Regions from separate parts of the Homo sapiens genome. Here regions 2 and 3 are each linked to region 1. Evidence: fine-mapped expression QTL. A gene starts in region 1. Each other region holds a variant in brackets. All regions are shown on one strand. Distances are from middle to middle.

Region 1 (7,708 bases):
CGTGGTGTTAATGCCAGTTTGAACAGACAGGACCTGGAAATGCGCAGACACACTCCTCAATGTGCACACCTCATCTTTCAGGACCCTTGGCCCTTACTCCTCCTGACCATGTCACCACGGATGCCACAAAAACACCTGGTAGTGTGAAGTGCAGACAGAAAGGGGATCTTGGAGGGGGAGGGTGCCCTGTTTTGTTTTTCAAGAATCATCCTCAAAATCATTCAAGACAAACTCTGGAACCTCGGGTTCTGGTCCTGGCTGTGATCTCAGGCAAATCTCCTCTTCCCTGGGTCTTGGTCTCCCCAGTTGTCAAATAAGCAGAGTGGATTTTCTGATGGCTAAGATCCCTCTGGCCCCGATATTCTAAGATCTGAAGCTACGCATTCAGGTTTAAGGGCTGCTAAGTCTGATAAATCCAGGGCAAGAGAGAATGTGGAGACTTTAGGTTGCTCCGCCCAAGTAAACACCACAGACAGAAGGTGAGGACCAACCAGCAGTCTTGAGACGGGAGCTGAGGGGAGGAGTCGAGGGTCAGGGGAGCTCAGCAGAGACCCTCAGAGGGCTATCTCTGGTCAGCATCTTGGGGCTGTCTGGGAGGGACAGGGCTGTGTGGCCTGGTATTGGGAAACCAAACAGGTGGCTTGTTTCTTCCAAACAAACGGCCTGTTTTCTTTCTCAGGAGCAAGAGCTCCCAGGAGGGGTGGCCATGGCAGCGAGGGCTCAATCCAGAGGAAGGGAGAATAAAACATTGGCAGGGGAGGCTGCACCACCTGTCCAGGCTGGGGAGGAGCTCAACTCTATGAAGCCGCTTGAAAGACTGAGAGGTTGAGAAACCTGGGGCCCAAAACAGTCTTGGTCCCGAATGTGGCCAGGTCTCCTGGGTTAAAGTAAAGGGCCCTAGAAGGGAGTCAGGAGGGCTGGGTTCCAGTCCCAGTTCTGCTGCTGAACTGTTGTGTGTCCTTGGGTAAGTCCCATCCCCTCTCTGAGTTTTGTTTGTCAAATGAGAATGATGTCTCTGATGACCTGAAGGTCCCCTCCACCTGAGACATTCTAGGACCTTCCTTTTCCCTCCAAGCAAAGGGAGACTTGAAGCATGGAGAAGGATATTCTCACAGCTTTCGCTGCAAGAGGAGGATTCCTCCCAGCTTCAGAGCAGAAACAAAAGTGAAAGCAAAAGTCAGCAGCCCCCATACCACATCCCAAGTCAGAAGACACCTGAGCTTCTGAAACTTTCCCAGCACCGAGGGAGACAATGCTTCTCTTTTGCATGACTCCCACCTTAATTTGGGGCTGGGGGAAGAGAATCCACACTAAAGCTCCTCACACTCTGGCCTCTTCCAGCCCAAGAAGCCTGAGGGGTTTACAGCCAGGCCTGCAGAGGGAGGGAGGAACGTTGACCAGAAACACAACCTATTAAAACGGGAGCCCCAGAAGCTCCAGCTGGCCTCTGCCTCCAGCTTTCCCATCCCTCACGCAGACAGAGAAACTCCCAGGCCTCGTGACATCTGGAGCCAGCGAGCCGGAGAGTCGCAGCTGGAGGGGCTTGGGTCCTGCCAATACCCCAGACACTCACTCACTACTTCTCTCTGGCAGGGGACCAGGCTGGCAGTTTGGGCCTCATGTAGAACCCCAGAATCTTACCCTTGACCAACAGTCATGAGTGAAGGCCACACATTACTCTCTGCTTCCTGTATGGGCCTCTCCTCCAGCTCCCCCATTCATTCCCACTGCCCCCACCAACCCACAGGCCAGCCTCTCTCTCCTAGGAGTCTTCTCTAGGATCCTCGCCAACTTCCAGGCAGCCAGGATTATCTTCTTAACATATGGATGGGATCAGACGACTTCCCTGCTTAGAGAACTTGAATGAAAGGGACGTCTTTCTCCATGTTGTTCATCTTTGTTGAGCACCTAGAACAGCGCCTGGCCCACAGAAGGTGCTCGGCCAACATATGTTGAATGATTCCAAGAAAGCCCCCACCTGTCCAGTCCAGCTCACTCCGGACCTTCCATTCCCTTTACTTTTCCACACCCTCCACTGCCTGAGCACCTTCCCCAGCCCAGCACACCCCAGGCACTCTCCTGTCGCTGTGCCTTTGCCTGTGCTGTTCGATCTGCCCAGACACCCTTCCTCCCCTGTTCCCTGGGGGGACTCCAGTTCCCTGATGAATATTCTAATACTCTTTTCTTAGCAGGACCTCCTGAGTTATTTCCTTTCTTCTGTTCTCGTCTAAGCCCTGTGACATAACTTACTATAGAATACTTCATGTGCTAGGCATAAATACCCCACCTCGCCCTTGGAGATCATCATCCCATTTTACAGATGAAGAAGCTGAGGCTCAGAGAGGTCAGGTCACACAGCCAGCAAGTGGTGTGGCCTGACTGTATCGCCAATTCTGCAACACTTTTCATGAGTATCCCTGACTCCCTCACTAGGCTGGGGGCTCCCTGAGGCTTCTGGGCTCTGGGTCACTGGGGCAGGCCCCAGACACCCCATCAGAGAGCTGTCAGCTCCGAAGCCGTGAGGAGCAGGTTCACCACTAGCCTCCTCTCTCTTTCTTTGGCCTTTTCTCCCAGTCTGGGGGTACCTCTCAATTGGTGGAGTGAGATATTTGGAGGGGCAGGGGCTCTGTCCCAATAGGTCAGGATCCTCTTGTGACAGGTTTCCGGGGTGTGAAAGCTGTTCACGGTCCCAGGGCCAACAGTTCCCTAGACAAGCTGTTCTCCGGGTAACCCATTCAAAAGGAAAGCCAGAAGCCGGCCGGTCCTAGAGGGGAAAGCCTTCCACCCGCTGACTTACCTCCCGGTTCGGGTCCCTGCCCCGCCCACCTCGTCCCCGCCCACCCCACTCCGGCAGCGCCCGGGTTCCCAGCAGCCAGACCTCCCCTGCTGTTGGGAAGGACCCGCAGTCCCATGCACCGTCACAGGCACCTCGGAGCGCTGCGCAGGACACCCCACGGGCTGCTCCCTGGGGAAACCGTGGGGGAGGGGCCAGGTCTCTCGCCCCCACCGCTGGTTGGGAAAGAGACCATTATCCTGTAATGCAGACCAGGCGCGCCGGGCCAAGCGCCTCCCGTTTGTGCGCTGATTTGAGATCTGATTTGTACTCTGCTCTCCCCTAGGCCCGGTAACGTAACTTACCGCTGAGTGCTTGCTGGGTGCTGGGCATGAATGCCCCGCCGCACCCTGGGACGTTGTCATGTCAGTTTCACAGATGAAGAAACCGACGCGCTCAGGGAAGGACTCGAGTTTCAATCCACTTTGCTCATGCCCGATTCTTTACCCCCGTGTTTGCTTGTAGAGCGACACACACACATACACACACACGAATCTAAATCCCTAAAAGGCCCCGACTTCCATACAGTAAGGGATGCGCGAGCAAAGCGCCAAGGTGGTTTCCTGGGACCTACTGGGAAGTTCTGCTCCTAACCACGCGCTGAAAGCGCTTCTGGCGAAGCCAAGGGTTCGAAGCCCGCCGGGCGGATAGCACCTGTTCCCGCCAACAGGGGGCCCCCAAGGCCAGCTGCCTTCCCCAGCCGAGGCCAGCTGGCCAGGCGCGGTGCCCGGGAGGCGGGAGCGTCCCGCGCCGGCGGGGCGCGGCCGCAGAGGGTGCGGGGTGCGGAGTCCTCCCGGTGGTCGACCCCAGGCGGGAAGCGCTCGGCGGACAGACGGACGGACAGGAGACCCAAACGGGCCTCGGCCCCCTTACACGGCCCTGTGGGGAACCGACAGCGCGCCGCGGGAAGCAGCGGGCGCAAGGCGCGGCGGCTGAGACTCACCCGGGAGGCGGCGGGTCCGGCTCCGTCTCGGCTGGGCGGTCCGGGACTGCGGGCTTCGCGACCCCCGCGCCCCACCCGGGCGGCCTCCTCGGTGGGCGCCGCGATCGCGGGGCTGGGGTTCGGGGGATTCTTAGCCGAGGGAACGCAGTGGTGGAGAGGGCGCACTGCCCTCTCAGGGACCGGGTTGGGGACGCAGGAAGCGCGGCCTGGGAGCGCCGGCGTGCGGGAGGGAGGGACCGCGGGAGGCGGAGGGCGGTGCCGGCCAGGAGCGGCCTCCAGCCCGGAGAAGCACCGCCCACCGGCCGACCCTCCCTCCCGGCCCTCGGCACCACCCCCGGGCCCGAGGCGAGGGATCGCAGCTGAGCGAGGCGGGCACCCACTCCCCAGCGTATGCCGCTGGAGCGCGCTGAGCGTGTGCCGGGGGCTGGGCCTAAGTTCTCCCCAACCCTTGCCAGCCGAGTTGGATAAGAGGGGGTCGGGAGAAAATAGAGCCCTGATCCCCCCTCCTCCCTAGGGCCCAGAGAATCGGTGTGCATGCGTGTGTGCGCGCACGCGCGTGTGTGTGACGGGTGGTGGTCGGGGAATGTCTCAAGCTAGAAGTCCCAGGTTTTAGGGGTTTAAGTGGAGCTGGGAGACCCGCTTTCCTCCCACACCAGGCGCAGACGCCGAGGCACAGCTCCGCCAGCCGCCCCGCCTTTACCTGGCGGGATACTCACCTCTCCTCCTTCCTGGGGAGGCCACCGCCTCCCTCTCCCCCTTCTGCCCTGGGCTGGTTCCCAGCGAGGTGAGTGACCGGCACAAGTAGGGAAGGAGGAAGCGAGTTTTTAAAAACTGAGTCAGCTCACGCCCTCGGCCAGGGTCCCCACCCGATGCGTGGTCCCCAGGGCGCCCTCGGGATCGCACGCCCGAGTCCCGGCCCAGGTGGGGCCCATTCCGGGTTCTTGCGCGCGGGCAATGGATGGGGGCGCGCTGCACCGGGAGCCTGCCCTGCTGAGGGCTCATCCCCAGCTTTGCCGAGAACTTTCCCGGCGAGGCACCGGCTGGCGTTTTCCCAGCCTGCGAGTGGCAGGCGGGCAGCCAGTCTCTGCTCGGATCCACGGAGGCCCGGAGCCGCCACGGAGTTCTGGCTCCGGGGAGTGCAAACCCGAAGTCGGCGCGGAAGCCTCTCACCCGCGGCTCTGCCTCCGCCCCTTGGAGATCTGCCCTCGGAACTGCGTTGCTCTGGCGCCCGAACTAGGGTGGGCTGGTTTCAGCCAGACCGCCAAAAAACGTGGATGCTAAACACAGAGGGAAGAGCCAGCTCCCATTCCCTCTCTGAGCCTTAGATTTTTTTGAATTCCGAGAGAGGTCAGGCCGGGGTCCCCTTCTTGGGTGAGCGTCCAGCCCTTTGAAGTTCAAACACTGAGAAGCCGATAGGCAGCTGGCTGGCGTCACAGGATCGAGCCGAGGACTGAAGGCGCCTCCTACCGGGAATCCACCGCCTCCAGACGAAAATAGGCTGCAATCAAGTTCACTTCCAAAGGCGGAATTCATGGGTACATATGGTGTCCACGTGTGTACACCTGCAGAGTTGTAACATGCGGGCATTTCTCCCCTCAGCCCGCCATTCTGGCTTCTTAACTTGCACCCTAACAGCTCGACAGAACCTTGGCGTCCACAAAAAGGCAAGTTTGGGTCTGCCTTATGATTTGGGGGTGGGAAGGCATTTGGGGAAACAGTCTCCATGTCTATGACAGCAACTGCTATTCCTCACATCCTTGCTATGAACCAGGGGCGGGGTTACCACCCACATCCCCTGAACCATCTCATTTAATCCTCATAACCTAGGAGGCGGTTATTTGTTATGCCCACTTTATAGAAGAGAAGGCTGAGGCTTAAGGAGGTGAGGTCATTTTGCCCAGTGAAAACACAGCTGGGAAGTATCAGGATCTAGACCCAAGATGATCCACTCCAGAGCTTCTGCTCTCCCTCCCATAGCATAATTCCTCCTGTCTGCACATACTCTCCACCCTGAGAGAATGTTCACCTTGCCTGGCCACCTGCAAATGCGGAATAAACATTTGTTGGATGAATGAAAGCCCTAAATAATAACCCATGATTTTAGTGAATAGGGAGGACCCTTTGTGTAGGCAGGTACCTATAATAATATGCTCCCATTTAAGAGCTGTGCGTATTCATCCCAAAGTTTAGACAATGCATGTGGGGACCTTCCCAGGCTCCAAAGGAGTGACAGGAAACAGTCACGTAGCTCTCAGATAAGACCAGGAATCTGGTTTTCATTTGACTCTGCAAGATGGACTTTGGAGAGGCCTGGGGTGGGGGCGGGGGGTGATCATGTCAGAACAGCTGTCCCAGCTCCTAATCTGAAGACAAAGAGCTGCTGTACTTTTCCATGCCAGGGTCATCCCAGACCCGCCCCACTCTGCTGCAGACTCAACTGGGCAGGTCTTGTTTATCACAGGATATCATCTTCAGAGTGTTCCATTTAAGCAGGCTCACCCTGGCTGATCTGGGGAGAGACTGACGAAATTCTCAGGCAAAGCTGAGGCCCAGGCAAAACTGAAGAAGCTACCAAAGGAAGCATGCCTCTCCTTATCCTCCTCTCCTCCACAGCCCTCTCCCTCTACATGGTTAGTTTCTCTGAATCTTCCCTACCATTTATTGAACCCTGTGTTTCACGTGCACTGCATACATTGTGTTCTTTGGTTTTCAAAACAGCCCTAGAAGGAAGATTCTATTATTCTAGTTTTTCAGATGAGGCTGTTAAGACTCAGAGAAGTTAGGTACCTGGATCTGCTAGCAAGTGACAAAGTATTTGAATCTGGGGTCTTTGCAGGGCCCTTGCTCTAAATCACTAAGCTAGGAACCCCCTTCTGTGATAGGCAGAATAATGGCTGCCCAAAGATGTTCACAACCTGATCCCCAGAACTGGTTACTTTACGTGGCAAAAGGGACTTTGCAGATGGGATCAAGTTAAAGATGTTGGGACGGGGAGGTTATCCTTGATTTTCCTGGTGGGTCCAATGTTGTCAAAAGGGTTCCTACAAGAGGGAAGCGGGAGGGTCAGAGTTAGAGAGGGAGATGTGGTGATAGAAGTAGAGATCAGAATGATACAGTTGCTGGACAAGGGTCAGTAGCCAAGGAATGTGGGCAGCCTCTAGGAGCTAGAAAAGGAAAGGAATGGAGTGTCAGCCAGAGCATCCAGAAGGAGCTCTTGGCATCCACAAAAAGGCAAGTTTGGGTCTGCCTTATGATTTGAAGGTGGGAAGGCATTTGCAGATCCGTTTTGGACATCTGACCTCCAGAACTGTAAGAAGATAGTTCACTGTGTTGTTCTAAGCCATGAAGTTTGGGTCAATTTGTCACAGCAGCGGGAGGAAACTAATACATCCTGCAAACTCAGTCACCTAGGCAGATGTTCACTTCACCTGCTTTTTTGGCTAACTGTCCACTGTAAACTTCTGAAGAGGCACCATGATCTAGCCTACATCACGGATTTAGAAAGAAGGCAGGATTCCATCACCTTTGTCTTTGGTTTCTGAATCCTCTGCTATTTGTGAGTTGTGTGACCCTGGGCAGATGTCTTGTCCTCTCTGAGCCTCAGTTTCCTCATGTGTCAAAAAAAAATTATTAGCATTTCTATGCTAATAATACCTATTTTCCAGGACCAACTCGGGGATCAGGTGAACTAGTATGTGACAAAGTACCCAGTGTGGCCTGAACATGAGTTGTGGGAGCATTAGCCTGTCTAGTTCTGAAAGCCTGAATTCAAAGAGGAGAGGATGCTGTTCTGAGAATTCCCGTGGCATTACATTTTTATTCTTTCTGGCTGAATGGGTAAATAACGACAGTTTTAAAATATTCGACTGTCCCTGGTTAGTGACCAAGACCCCAGTCTGTCATGCTACTGACTTTCCAGGCACATCAATGAA
Region 2 (7,708 bases), 79 kb before region 1:
CAAATTAACTGGTTACCGTAAATGAAAAGTCTGCAGGGCTCAAGTGATGTCATCAGACCTCAGTCTCTCTCTGGCTCCTCAGCAATACTTTTGACCACGTGGATCCAACCTCAGACAGAATCTCTGTATAATGGTCCCAGAAAGACTGCTGCAGCTCCAGTCCTTACATCTTCTCAGCTTTGAATCCCAAGGGGATGAGAGAGAATTTTTTCCTAAGATTCTCCCAAAGGCCTCATGGCTTCTCATTTTCTCTGATTGACTCACAGGCCCGTTTCTAAGCCAATTAGTGTGGTCCGGGGGACTGCTGTGCTCTGATTGGCCAAGCTTGAGTCACATGCCCATCCCTGCAGCCGGAGATGGAGTCAACTCAACCAGGAAGAGACTGAGACTGGGCTGAGAACAGGAAAGGGGGTGGTCCCCAAAGGGGAATCATACATAACACCGTAATATTTTAGAAGAAAGGTGAATTGATATTGGGTGGCAGAAGCTTCAGGTGTCTCCTGCAGTGGCTAACGTACAAATCACGTTGACTTACTTTACAATTTGGATTTATGTCTTTTCTGGGGAAATTGGAACATCAGGCAATACTTGGGCTCTGTTCCTGCACACAGAGCAACAATCTGTGAGGCGTGTGGAGAGGCTGCCGCCTCCAGGTACAGCCTGTGTCCTCCTTGTCCGCCGCGCTTATTCTTATTCCTTCTCTGTTCTATAACTGCTTGAGTTTTTACCCCTGATGTATTTTGATTATGTGGATCTGTTTATCCTACCAGAATGGAAGTGCTAAAAGTACAGGGGTCAAGTAGTTCTCCCTGTGTTCCCACAAAGTTCTGAGGTCAAATGCCTGGCCGTTAAAAAAATTCAACTTTTAGCTGGGCATAGTGGCTCACGCCTGTAATCCCAGCACTTTGGGAAGCCGAGGCCGGCGGCTCACTTGAGGTCAGGAGTTCAAATCCAGCCTGGCCAACATGGTGAAATGTCTCTACTAAAAATAAAGAAATTAATCGGGCGTGGTGGCGGGTGCCTGTAATCCCAGCTACTCTGGAGGCCGAGGCATGAGAATCGCTTGAACCCGGGAGGCAGAGGTTCCAGTGAGCTGAGATCACACCACTGCACTCTAGCCTGAGCGACAGAGTGAGACTCTGCCTCAAAAAAAAAAAAAAAAAATTCAACTTTTATTTTAGATACAGAGGGTAAATGTGCAGGTTTGTTACATGGGCACATTGCACCCAGGTAGTGAGTATAGTATCAAATAGGTACTTTTTCAACCCACTCCCCCACCTCCTTTCCCCTCAAGTAGTCTGCAGTGTTGAGTGTTCCCATGTTTATGCTCATGTGGGCTCAATGTTTAGCTCCCCCTTCTAAGTGAGAATATGCGGTATTTGGTTTTCTGTTCCTTTGTTAATTTACTTAGGATAATGGCCTCTAGCTGCAACCATGTTGCTGTAAAGGACATGATCTCATTCTTTCTTATGGCTACGTAGTATTCTGTAGTGTATATGTGCCACATTTTCCTTATCCAATCCACCATTGATGGGCACCTAAGTTGATTCCATGTCTTTGCTATTGTGAATAGTGCTGCGATGAACGTAGGAGCGTATGTGTCTTTTTGGTAAAATGGTCTTTTTCTTTTTGGGTATATCCTGGCAATGGGATTGCTGGGTCAAATGGTAACTCTGTTTTAAGTTCTTCGAGAAATCTCCAAACTGCTTTCCACAGTGGTGGAACTAATTTACATTCCCACCAACTGTGTATAAGCATTCCCTTTTCTCAACATCCTCTACAGCTTCTGGTTTTTGTTTGTTTGTTTTTTTGACTTCTTAGTAATAGCCATTCTGACTGTTGTGAGATGGTATCTCGTTGTGGTTTTGATTTGCATTTCTCTCATGATTACAGATGATGAGCCTGGCCATTTTTGATCATCTCATTCCTTGCTCATTTTTAAATCCTTCTTTTAAAAACTATTTAATACAAAGTAGAATCAGTATCTGGGAATTCCAACACCTGATGTCCTTGGGGTGCGAGGAAGTGTCTCAATCTACTGTTTGTTCTTTCTGCTCACTCTTGCTCATACTGACTTGTTTCTTGGAGGGTTAATAATTTGAATGTGATCTCAGTGTTGATTGAAATTGATCTGCGGGAGTCCTGAGGAGTCTGATTTCTGGCTGCGTTCCTCTAGGAATGATTTTTGTTTGTTTCATTTGGATGCCAGGGCTGCTACCAACCTGTGATCCCTTACATTTACTTCTTCAGCTTGGAGTTTCCCCCTTGAATGCACGGAGTGTTAAACTAATTCCTAGTACCATGTGGTTACGAATCCTCAGGGTTAACAATCGTCATTATTATGGTGGCCATTGTTAATTTTCCCCTCCAGAAACCCTGCAGAGCCCATGCGCTCCCTTTTCTGGCAGTCCAGAAAAATACACTTAAAGCCTTCCCTTTCTCAGGAGGTAGAGCACCTTTCAAGGTCCTGGCTTAATATGGACATTGTAGATTTTGCTAGCTCAGTTTGCAAAGGCCTGAGGTCTGACTTCTTATTTCCTGTACCTGTTAACTCTCCACACTGATGGAGGTATTTATCCTCAGGAATTCCTGGCTTCCTCATTCGCTTATACTTTGGTTATAGCTAGCTCTGCCTATGGTGTGTGTGTGTGTATGTTCCTTTGGGACTACTTACTTAAAAAAATTGGGTGTCCTCCAGCAATCTCATTACTGAGTATATACTCAAAAGAAAATAAATCATTCTACCAAAAAGACACATGCATTTGTCAGTTCATTACTGTGCTGTTCACTATAGCAAAGACATGGAATCAACCCAGGTGCCCATCAGTGGTCAGTAGATTGGATAAGGAAAATGTGGTACATATGCATTATGGAATATTATGCAGCCATAAAAAAGAATGAGATTGTGTCCTTTGCAGCAACATGGATGGAGCTGGAGGCCATAATCCTAAGCAAATTAACTCAGGAAAATAAAACTATGGCATGTTCTCACTTAGAAGTGGGAGCTAACCATTGAGCACACACAGACATAAATATATAGGGACAATAGACCCTGTGGACTCCTAGAGGGTGTGGGGGCAGGAGGGTTAAAAAACTATCCATCAGGGCCAGGTATGGTGGCTCACGCCTGTAATCCCAGCACTTTGGGAGGCTGAGGTGGGCAGATCACGAGATCAGGAGATCGAGACCATCCTGGCTAACACGATGAAACCCTGTCTCCACTAAAAACACAAAAAAATTAGCCAGGCGTGGTGGCATGCGCCTGTAGTCACAGCTACTCGGGAGGCTGAGGCAGGAGAATTGCTTGAACCCGGTAGGCAGAGGTTGCAGTGAGCCGAGATTGCACCACTGCACTCCAGCCTGGGTGATAGAGTGAGACTCCATCTCAAAAAAAAAAAAAAGAAAAAAGAAAAAAACCTACTCAACAGGTGGTGTGCTCACTGACAGTGTGGCAGGATCCATACTCCAAACCTCGGCATCATGCAGTATTCCCATGTACAAATCTGCACATGTAC[T/C]CACTGTGTCTAAAATAAAAATTGAAACTAAAAAAAATGCTGGTAGTTTGGGGGCTAGAAGTAGCTAGAAATCAAATTAATCTTCACGTCTGCATTAGAAATGTCTTATAGAAGAGAGTTATAGTTTTTAATATAAACATATTGCTTCTCTATGGAAAAAAATTGGGGTTTATAATGGAGTTTTTTGAAACATACAACACAAAAGTAGGGAAAAGAGTACCATTAACCCCATGTACCCATAATCCAGCTTCGATACTTCTCCAATCTTGTTTTATCGCTTTTTTCTTCCTTTTTGATTAACTTCCTTTTGGATTAACTTAAAACACATTGTGTCATTTCATACATAAATACTTCCTGACTAAAAGGAGCTTCCCCACCTTTATGACATTATTTTCCCCATGACATTATCACACTAGCAATACTAGTAACAGTTCCTGAATATCGTCTAACATCCATCCATGCTCACACTTTCTTGATTCTCTGAGAGATGTCGTTGTATTGATGATTTGTTGACATCGGGATCTAGACGCCATCCACACGTTGTGTTTGGTTGTTATGTCTTTGAAATATTTTTTATTCCATAACAGCATCCCCTACCTTTTTCATACCACTGATCGGCTGGAGAAACTGGGTGTTTCGTCCTATAGAATATTCACACCATAGATTTGACTGATTGCTTCTTCATAGTTTCAATTAACTTATTCCTCTCTTCCCCATGTTTCCTGCAAACTAAGAGTGAAATCTCGAGGCCTGATGAGATCTGGTCTTCTTGTTGTCAAGACTACTTCATAGGCAGGCTGTTTGATTCCTCCTGTGTCACATCGTGGACATGTAACATCTTGGTTGGCCCTTTTTAATGATGCCAAGATGGCTAGGTAGGATCAGTGCTGACAGGCTGATCTGTCCATCATAAAGTTCTCATCAAATTTTTCTCCAGTGACTTTTAATTTTTATGTTTAATTTTTTTTTGAGATAGAATTTTGCTCTGATGTCCAGGCTGGAGTACAGTGGCAAGATCTCGCCTCACTGCAACCTCCGCCTCCTGGGTTCAAGTGATCCTCCCACCTCAGCCTCCCAAGTAGCTGGGACTACAGGTGCACACCACCATGCCTGGCTAATTTTTTTACTTTTAGTAGAGACAGGGTTTCACCGTGTTGGCCGGGCTGGTCTTGAACTCCTGACTTCAAGTGATCCTCCTGCCTTGGCCTGCGAAATTGCTGGGATGACAGGCATGAACCACCAGGCCCAGACAGTTTTTATTTTTAATTGTGGTAAAATACACATAACATACAATTTACCATGTGAATCATTTTTAGCGTACAGTTCAGTAGTGTTAAGTACATTTACATCATTGTGCAACCAACCTCCAGAGCTTTTTCATCTTGCAAAACTGAAACTCTGTACCCACCAAACACTAGCTCTGTAATTCCCCTTCCTCCCAGGCCCTGAGAAATATCATTGTACTTTCTGTTTCTATGAGTTTGGCTATTCTAGATACTTCGTATAAGTGGCATCACACAGTATGTGTGTTTGTGACTAGCTTATTTCACTCTGCAGAATGTCCTCAAGGTTCATCGTGTTGTAGCATGTGTCAGAATTTCCATCTGTTTTAAGGCTGAATAATATTTCATTGTATGCATAGACTATATTTTGTTTGTCCATTCATTCATCGGTGGACACTTGGGCTTATCAACATTTTTTTTTTCTTTTTTTGAGATGGAGTCTCCCTCTGTCACCCAGGCTGGAGTGCGGTAGCAAGATCTCGGCTCACTGCAACCTCCACCTTCCAGGTTCGGGCAATTCTCCTGCCTCAGTCTCCTGAGTAGCTGGGACTATAGGCAAGTGCCACTATGCCTGGCTAATTTTTTTATTTTTAGTAGAGATGGGGTTTCACCATGTTGGCAAGACTGATCTTGAACCCCTGACCTCAAATGATCCTCCTGCCTCGTCCTCCCGAAGTGTTGGGATTGCTGGTGTGAGCCACTGTGCCCGGCCTCATCAACTTTTTACCTAATAGTTTTAGCATTCTTTGAGGATCATTCCCTAGCTCCATTCTTTCCTTTGAGGTTGCAGAATAGTGATCTTTCTGATATTCCTTTGTTAATTATTGCTAGAATTCTTCTTCATCAACTGTCAATGCATTTTCTTCATCAACTATTATTATTATTATTATTTTTGAGACAGGGTCTCACTCTGTTGCCCAGGCTGGAGTGTAGTGGTGTTATCATGGCTCACTGCAGCCTCAACCTCCTGAGCTCAAGTGATCCCTCCATCTCAGCCTCCCAAGTAGCTGGGACCACAGGCACACACCACTACACTCAGCTAATTTTTAAACTTGTTGTAGAGACGCGGTTTCTCCATGTTGCCCAGACTGATCTCAAACTCCTGAGCTCAAGCATCCTCCAGCCTAGGCCTATCAAAGGGTTGAGATTACAGGCGTGAGTCACTGCGCCTGGCCAATTATATGTTTACCGTAAAACACAGTTTGTTCAGGAAAGGCAGAATAAATGATGGATTCTTTCCCTTTATGTATCAATATTCACAGTAACAAGCAACTTCCCAAAGTGACCAATGAGTTTTTAAAAGTATCATCAGGAATATTTGATTTGGAATTATGTAGATGTGTTTCAATCCATTGAAGTCACTATTTGGTTTGATGCTCACATGGTGCCAGCATCATGGCATTTGGGTTGGTTCTTGTGTTGTTTGTTTTTCTGGGTGGAAACAACTTAATATTTCATTATAATCATTTGTGTTTGTGAAGCATTACTGTGGTCTTTAGGGAAACATCTTTTTACTCGGTTTTCCTTTCCTGTACAAGGAAGCTGAGCAAGATGAACTCTAGAAGCATTTCTCTTTAAAATTCTACTTTTTATAGCATTTTGTAGCATATAATTTAACTCATTTGATTCTCCCAGTCTTGTGGCCCAACGCAATAATCAATATTTCGTTTTTCAAACATGGAAATTGCCGCTCAGATGACAATCTTTTTTTCCACTTCTCCATACTACATTCTCCCCGCAACCCCCCGTAGCCAGTAGACCTAAAGCTTCAGTTTGTACAGTTTTTAACCACGGGCATTTTGCGCCCTGACCCAGGCCCCCAGGAGACTTTTGACAATGCTTCGGGACATTTTTGATTGCCACACCTGGGCAGTGCTTCTGGCATCTAGTGGTGGAGGCTAGGGATGCTGTAAACTTCCTGTAAGGAACAGAGCAGCCTTCCACCTAGCCACGCCTTGCCCCATGTCAGGGTTACCCAGCCCAAAATGTCAATAGTGCCAAGGTTCAGAAACCCAGAGTTGAAGCAATACACAGAGATAAAATCATATTCCATTTAATTCAGTGTTTATTCACTGGAGGGGTGTATGATAATGTACACGTCTATGAAATTACTACCCAGGAAGTAGGAGCAAGGGATAGTCTGCCTTCAACATATGCGTAGGACTTAGTCAATGGTGTTCTTCTCCTCCTCCTCCCCCTCTGGTCTTATTCCTGGTTCCTATATTGCCCCGTGAGACCTTTCTATTATTGGCCTAAGGGAAGATGAGTGGATGATTTTTACTACTTTCAGCCATTGGAAAAATTTTAGGCATTAAAACTTTTTTAACTGGAAAAATAAACATCAAAATCAAGGTTTATTCCAAATAGCAGCTAGAATGTTTGTACTGATTTCTCCTTGCCAATTTTTTTTTTTTTTTTTTTTTTTGAGACAGGGTCTCACTGTGCTACTGAGGCTGGAGTGCAGTGGTTCTCCGTTCTCTGCAAACTCCACCTCCCGGGTTCAAGCGATTCTCCTGCCTCAGTCTCCCAAGTAGTTGGGATTACAGGCGTGCACTACCACACCCAGCTAATTTTTGTGGTTTTAGTAGAGACGAGGTTTCATCATGTTGGCCAGGCTGGTCTCGAACTCCTGACCTCAAGTGATCTGCTCACCTCCCAAAGTGCTGGGATTACGGGTGTGAGCCACCACGCCCGACTCCTCCTTGCCATTTTCATGGATTCAATGAATGTTTTAAATAAGCTTAGGATTACCTTTTAAAGTCAATAAAATTATTGGCCTCATATGCCCCAACTTCTCCTATAAAAGGTATATTCCTATTTCCTTTTCTCTACTGCATTTGTGCTGATTTAAAAAAAAAACAACACCCCAGTTGGTGCTAAATGAATGTACCATTGGTAACTTCTAGGACA
Region 3 (7,708 bases), 92 kb before region 1:
TCTGCAAAAAAAGAAAAGACCCTTGGGAGTAAGAGAAATAAAAACAAGCCAGATAGTTTATGTTTGTAAATTCCGAAGCCTATGAGAAATCCTCAGAAATATTAATACTTTCATATAATGAGAATTTTATTTTTAAGTCTGCTGTCTTTAATAGGGATAAAAAGACACTTCTTTTTCCAAAAGAACCATGCCCTGTTGCCCTCAAATTGCCTGAGTTATTAATCTTCAATTGCAGAGGACTACATCATCAAGCACCACATCCAAACTAAAGTAAAAGTAATCTAAAGTCAACTTTCGAGAAATGTCTCTTTTGTGGGAAAGCCACAGGAAATGCCTCCAGAGTAAAACCCCAAATCTGAATGACTGGCTTTTTTTTTTTTTTTAGCTCTTCCCCCCGATGTTTCCACAGCTGGTGCCTTGCGGTAGCTACCTGACCACCCCAGCTAAAGGCGTCACCAGTCACTTTGTTGTCTAGCTAGCATGTGTCACTGCTGTGGCTCCTTCCTTGAGCTTATCATTCTCTGTCATTTTCTTGTTCTTTACTTAGCTGTTTACTGTTTCCCTTTCACTGAGATACGTTCCAAGAGAGCCCAAACTGTGTTGTTTTTGTTAAACTCAATTCTCCATGGGTTTCCTGTGTTTGTACCCATCTTCAGAGCAAAGACACTGACAGATTTTGTTCCAGACAATCTTCCAAGGACATCTGTAGGGCAAATATCCTGAGAGGATAGGGATAGTGTCCCTATCCAGGGCAGAGTGCAGATTTATGATAAAAATGTCATCTCTGGCTGGGCACGGTGGCTCATGCCTGTAATCCTAGCACTTTGGGAGGCCCAGGTGGACGGATCACCTGAGGTCAGGAGTTTGAGACCAGCCTGGCCAACATGGCGAAACCCTGTCTCTACTAAAAACACAAAAAAATTAGCCGGGCATGGTGGCTTGCACCTGTAGTCCCAGCTAATCGGAAGTCTGAGGCAGGAGAATCACTTGAAACCGTGCAGCAGAGGTTGCAGTGAGCTGAGATTGTGCCACTGCACTCTATCTAGCTTGGGAGACAGAGCAAGACTCTGTCTCAATTAAAAAAAAAAAAAAAAGGTCATCTCCTTCCAGGGCAAAGGTTGGGCACTGGCTAGCAGCCCCTTTTAAAAGACTGGAGTTTCCTGAGCTTGGGGTTCCTTAGCTGGGAAACAGACTCGCAGTGTGCACAGCATCCACCTGAGCTGTCCTGCATCACCCCGGGGTACTTGCAGGGCAAGGGGAACCAACGCAAACATGAGCTCACAGTGCCTGCTGTGCTGTGAGTAATAACATCCTTTGTCTCTGGTCCTGGAGTCTCTGGTCTTCTGCTAGCATCATTAAGCAGTGGCAGGCTAACTTAGCTTGCAAGTAGTGTAAAAATCTCAGACCCTTTGCATTTCCTCACAGTCTGTTCATTACTCCCCTCTGGCCCCCAGCGCTGCCATGCCTGACACATAGTGGTGCTCAGTAAATCATGAATGAATGAAAGTACAAAACAATGCTTAAAAGTAAGTCAGGGTAGCCTAAGAACCTCTGACAGTAACTACCTTTCATTTTCCCCTTCAGTATTTATCCTAGATGACATTCTGGAAAAAAAAAAAAAAGTCTATTTCTTTAGCTGAATGGGTTGGGCCCTATTTCCCCACTTTAATCTTGCCCTGTGCAGTCACTTTCCTACCTGAAAACACTGTAGAAAGTGATTAGATGCGTTAAACTCTGTAAATTAGTTCTAAGACACAGGGCACCGACCATGCAAAAGAGCAAAAGAGCTTCAGGCATCTGCACTCCCTGCTTATAGGTCACAAGTGAGATAGAGAAGCAAAATTTCTGTTGAGGGGTTACCAGATCTTAAGTGGCCTGGGAGCCCTAGAAATTCCTCAGTGTTGTATTTGGGAAGGGAGAGGTTAGGCAAGGGGGGAGTCTCTCTGACCGCCGGGTGGGTGTCGTTCGTAAGTCAGGGGCAGCAGGGATGCCCCTCCTAATCCCAGCTGTAACCCCCAGGACTTCCCAGAGTGGCATGGCTGGTGCCAAGGAGGGTCTAAGGCTCCCGGGGGCTTCCTCCGCGGGCGGGGTGGGGCCTGCATCTGGAAAGGAGGGGCTGGTGTTGGGGTAGCTACTGGGGTGCTCCTGGGGACCGGAGCCTGGATCCAGGAGGATGGGGCCGGGGAGCCACCCCTCCTCCTGCCAGGGCTAGTCCTCGCTGGGCCGCCCCTTCCGGTCCCCGGTCTCGGCCCGCCACCCCTTCCCGCGCCGCACTCACCTGGCGGGAGGAGGAAGCCCACGCTCCGACCTCCGCCGAGAGCCCTGCCAGCTCGGGAGGCGTCGGGCCAGCTCCGGGGCGAAGCCTCCCGGCCGCGCTCCCGCGGAGTCTCCAGCTCGCACCCGGCACCCCGCCCGCCCGGCCGGCCTGTGTACGCGCGTTGCCATGGCAACGCCGCCAGGCGCCGCGGGGTCCAGCCTAATAGATGAGGGCGTGGCCTGCGCGGCAGAGGGGGCGTGGCACCGTGCAGGGAACGCCCACTGGGTTACCGCCTGCTGAATGCTCCAGGCCCCACGAGCCTGCCCCATTTCACAGATAGGAAAGCGGAGGCTCAGAGGTCACAGAAATGGCCCAAGGTTTTACAGCGAGGAAGGAGCAGGGAGGAGATTTGATTCAAGAATCCTTTCCATTACCCCTCACTGTAAGCTGGATGCGTTGAGGGAGGGTCGGGGGCGATAGGGAGAGGTAGGAGATTGATGGAGCTGAACTCATGAGACCCTTGGAGGTTAGTATGCCCCCTGCCCTACCCAAATCTCTAGTCCTTTCCGTTACAGGCCAGAAAATAGAAAGAGTAAGAAGAGGGGATCTCTGGGAGTGGGGTGGGGATTGGGAAAGGGATGGGGTGGAATGAAAAATTTTGAAAGAATGAGGATTTCTTCCATGTGCTGGGGAAAAAATATTTCCAAACTCACAATCCTGCTGCCTCTGCTCCTCCCTGTTAAGAGTGACATTTATTCATTCTTTTGCCCTTTCTCTATCTCTGCAAACATCTTTTGAGTCCTATGAGTGTCACACGCTGATCCCAGAATACACCTGGAACAGTTACTGTCCTTAAGAAACCGCTTGTCAGCCGGCACAGGACTCGCGGGATGGAGTGTGTTGAGCAGATGTGCAAATCCTATCTCCCGCCACTATCTCCAGCAGGAAATCCTATCTCCTGCTGACTCTACCTGGAGAGTGATTCCTTTCACTGGCAGGAAATGGCTGACCAGACACCTCAAGAAAAACTCTAAACGTTTTTCTAAGAGAGATGAACTATGGCACATTCTACCCTAGTGATACGGTTTGGCTGTGTGTCCCCACCCAAATTTCATCTCGAATTGCACTCCCCACGTGTTGGAAGAGGGGCCTGGTGGGAGGTGATTGAATCATGGGGGCAGACTTCCCGCTTGCTTTTCTCATGATAGCGAGTGAGTTCTCATGAGATCTGATGGTTTAAAAGTGTGGCACTTCCCCCTTTGCTCTCTCTCTCTCCTGCTACACCATGTTACAACATGCTAGCTTCCTTGCTTCCCCTTGGCCTTCC[G/A]CCATAACTGTAAGTTTCCTGAGGCCTCCCTAGCAGTGCAGAACTGTGAGTCAATTAAACTTCTTTTCTTTGTAAATTATTCAGTCTCAAGGAATTACTTTATAGCAGTGTGAGAACAGACTAATACACCTAGTCAATAGGAAGAGGATCTGAGAGAGAAATCATGGACATCGATTTGTGGTGGAATATACAGTGAAGATGCTCAAACGTGCCTGGAGGCTTTTAGAAATGCGGACTTCTGGGCACAGACCCCAGAGATTCTGATTTAGCAGGCCTGGGACATAATCCAGGAATGTGCATTTGCAACAAGCTTGACAAAACCCTGATTTATGCAGCTGAACTGCAGAGACCTCTCCCGGAGCCTGTCCCTACAAATCTCTTCCAGGCCCTCAGTCTGGAAGGTTCTGCCTGGATCAGTTTCCTACAACCAGAAAGATTCTAGGCGTAAAATGTTAGGAGGGACCACAAGGGCTGGGACCCAAGTGATGGCTTCACAGGAACAGAGAGGGTCAAGCTCAGCTTCCCACACGTTTCTGCCTCAGAGCCTTTGCTCTTGCCCATTCCTCTGCCTGGAATGCACTTCCCCTCAAGAGTCTCCTTTGCCTTCTTTACTTTAGCTTTTTACTCACATATCATCTTTTCTAAAATTGGTTTTTTGAAACAATGAAACAACCACCATGAAATCTAATAAACAACAAAAAAGAGCAAATAAAAACAATAAGAACAGCAAAAGCAAATAAAAATAAGAACAACAAAAGCAAATAAAAATAAGAACAACAAAAGCACATCCAAACAAAATAAAAACCTCAACACTCTATCCCTCTTCCCTTCTTTTTGCCACTTGCTATAGTTAGAATATTTGACCCCTCCAAATCTCATGTTGAAATTTGCTCCTCAGTGTTGGAGGTGGGGCCTGGCGGGAGGTGCTTGGATCATGCGGGCGAATCCCTCATGGATGGCTTGGTGCTGTTCCTGTAGGGTGCATGAGTTCTCACTCTATCAGTTTCCTAAAGAGCTGATTGTTAGAAAGAGCCTGGCACCTCCCCCTCGCTCACTCTCACTTCCTCTCTCATCATGTGATCTCTGCACATGCAGGCGCTACTTTCTGCCAGGAGTGGAAGCAGCCTGAGACCCTCACCAGAGGCAGATGCTGGCACCATGCTTCTTGTACAACCTGCAGAACTGTGAGCCAAATAAACCTCTTTTCTGGATAAATGACACAGCCTCAGGTATTACTTGATAGCAACACAAATGGACTAATACATCACTTATCATCAACTCACATACTATTTCTTTATTTATTTATGTTATTTATTGTGTCTCCCTCCCTGACCCCTGGTAGAATCTAAACTCCATGAAAGCAGGAATTTCTTTTTTCATGTTTTGTTTGCTGCTGTGCCACCAGTCCCTAGAACAATGTCTGAATGAATAAATATGCAGGGGGAAGCCCCTGCCACCCTTCTGAAGCCCGGCCTCCTGTCCTCTGAGGACTGCTGGGCTGACCTGTCCTCGCCCCAGGATGTCGGCTTCTCTAGTCCCCTGCCCAGGCCTGAACACCACCTCCATCCCTACCACCACCCCTCCATGCTTGTCTTTGGTCAAACTCTTGTCATTAACATGAACCCAGGACACAAACTTGCTATCAGACAGACCCCAGTGAAACCCAGGCTGGCCATGAGCTGGAACAGCCCATGCCCCTCACCAGGCTTTGAGAGATCATCTGTTGCTGTTAGCTGATATCTCAATGAAAAACAAAAAATCCTAAACTGAGAGCAAAGCTGACACTCAGAATCAGTGGAGCCGAAGTTGCCAAATCTTAATTGGATCCTCTGTCCCTCAGGATGCCACTGTTATCTCAAGGGTGTGCAAAGTTCTTGAAACCCAATTCCGTATCATCCATTTTCATTTCAAAAACAGAAAATCAAATACCCAATAACTTAGGGTTTTATGATATAATTTCCTGGGCTGAGTAAGAGAGTTGTACATTGCAATTAAACAGTGATGCGGCATTAAAAATACTGTCCCTGAAAAAAAAAAATAGATGTTTCTAGATTACTTGTGCTTCTTGGCAGTGCCTACAGTTAACCTTTTATTGAACTCTTGGTGACGACGAAGCCCATATTGTAGGAAATAAGGCTCAGAGACAGGGAGAAATCTGCCTAAAGTCACACAGCTAGAAAATCTGGCAGGATTTGAATCGAGATGAATGTGACAAGGAAGGTATTTCCCCTGGGGAACTACAGGTGACAGCTGTCACAATCACAAGATGCCACTTACTCACAACTGCTTTCTCTCACTTCTGAGCAGCCTGCACTCTTGTCTGTCCAAAGGTTCAGGCAGTGCCCAGGGCAGGGAGTGAAGGGGGCATAAGCCCAGAGGAGGCAGCTTAGGCCTGCCACCCACATTACCTGCTGACATTGGGCACTAGGCTTCGTTCCTGCAGAACTTCTGCCCCCGTAAAATCTCATTCCTTCCCAGCCACCTTCTCTGGGCTGTTCTTGCCTGGGGAGAGCCTAACCCTGTGCTCCATCCTCAGAGAACTGTGTGATGTTTCTCCTGCTGCCCTTGCATTCCAACATGAAATGAATGCTGGCTTCAGGCCCCAGCCGCGGCCAGGAGAGGTGTGGAGGCTTCCTCAGCCTCTATGGCATGAAAGAGAGCCAGAGAAAGAGCAAGAACAAGAGAGTAAAGAGTGCAGGAAATAGCCAAGCTGTTGCGCAGGGTGACGGATGACAGAGAGCAGAGGGCCCACTAGAGACTCCACGGCCCATTAGTAACCTGACCATATAAGCTTAGAAAGTACAGATTTTTATATACAGACCTACACACAGAGACTCATGAAAATAATTTCAAACCATGGAGAGAATAACTGGCAACTGAGGCTTTCTGCAGCCATCCTTGCCTTTTCCCGTGGCAGAAAATGAGAAAATATGGAGCTTCGTCTCATGTCGACTCTTTCATGCTGGTTTGGAGCATTCAGTTATCTTGCAAATCATTTTTCAAAGTCAGTTCCCCTTGGTTCCTTGCGCTTTGCTGTGGGGGGGTCTGTCTGTACCATCCGTTCAAAAACTGCAAAGTGTGCTGGCCCCACCTGTCCTGGGCCTGGTTTTTGTTGTATTTTGTTTGTGCCTCACTTCCCTCACCTGTAAAATGGGTATACAACAATCCATTTTATTGAAAGGATTAAATGGGTTAAGACGTATGAAACAATGGATCAGTGGCTGGTACAACTGAATGGCTCTATGAGTGTTTACGATTATTGCCTGTTTTCTTTTTCTCTGATGCTGTGCGAAGAGAGCCCCAATCTCAACCCAGGTCACAAACACTCTGGAGAAACTTTGATTTGCATCAAGACTCAGTCCTACTCCAGAACAAACCTGATCTCTGGATGACTAGTCTCATATTATCTGGCCGGCTGCTCTGAGACCTTTCTATATGTGGATATGGATATAAGAGATAGGATGTGCTCCTTCCTCTAGTCACAACTAGAGGTGATTCTTGGGAACCCAGCAGTCTCTATGGGGTGGCACCTGCTGGACAACTCCATAAATTCTACTTCCAGGCATGTGGGCAAACCTTCACTATATTTTTTTGAGTGACAGTGAACCTTTATGAATGTGGTTAACAAATTCAGCTCATATTTATTAAAGCTAACAAGGTACCAACCACCATGTCATGCACAGTTTTATTTAGTTCTTAGCCCAACTCATTATACAGAAAGAGAAATTGAGGCACAGAAAAGTCAAGTAACTTAACCAGTTACAAATCTTGCACATGGTGGTTCTGGAATTCAAACTCTGGCTGCCAGATTACAAAGTGCTGTACTTTTTGTAAACTTTTTTTTTTTTTTTTTTTTTTAGATGGAGTCTTGCTCTGTTGCCCAGGCTGGAGTGCAGTGGTGCGATCTCGGCTCACTGCAACCTCCTCCTCCCGGGTTCAAGCGATTCTCCTGCTTCAGCCGCCTGAGTAGCTGGGACTACAGCCACACGCCACCATGCCCGGCTACTTTTTGTATTTTTAGTAGAGACGGGGTTTCACCATGTTGGCCAGGCTGGTCTCGATCTCCTGACCTCGTGATCCACCCGCCTCAGCTTCCCAGAGTGCTGGGATTAGAGGCGTGAGCC

What was found. PIP is the estimated chance that this variant, and not a neighbour inherited with it, causes the effect.
Region 2: its variant is fine-mapped to the expression of TMEM51 in blood mononuclear cells (TOPMed, PIP above 0.99).
Region 3: its variant is fine-mapped to the expression of TMEM51 in whole blood (TOPMed, PIP above 0.99).

What each region holds. Positions count from the first base shown.
Region 1 is chr1:15,150,023-15,157,730 of GRCh38, reverse strand. TMEM51 (transmembrane protein 51) reads right to left here and starts at 3,984. Exons shown (of 4, transcript NM_001136218.2): 1 at 3,777-3,984. TMEM51-AS1 (TMEM51 antisense RNA 1) reads left to right here and starts at 5,267. Exons shown (of 5, transcript NR_027136.1): 1 at 5,267-5,440. RefSeq lists enhancers at 2,479-3,140, 3,272-3,361, 3,141-3,802 and silencers at 3,512-3,691, 3,782-3,831, 3,892-4,161.
Region 2 is chr1:15,229,070-15,236,777 of GRCh38, reverse strand. It overlaps a transcript of FHAD1 not described here. Among named protein-coding and RNA genes, the nearest start is that of FHAD1, 14 kb to the left of the region's middle. The variant T/C (reference allele first, on the strand shown) is at 3,516.
Region 3 is chr1:15,241,966-15,249,673 of GRCh38, reverse strand. It overlaps FHAD1 (forkhead associated phosphopeptide binding domain 1), which reads right to left and starts at 2,451. Exons shown (of 34, transcript NM_001391957.1): 1 at 2,279-2,451. RefSeq lists silencers at 2,186-2,425, 2,443-2,616. The variant G/A (reference allele first, on the strand shown) is at 3,585.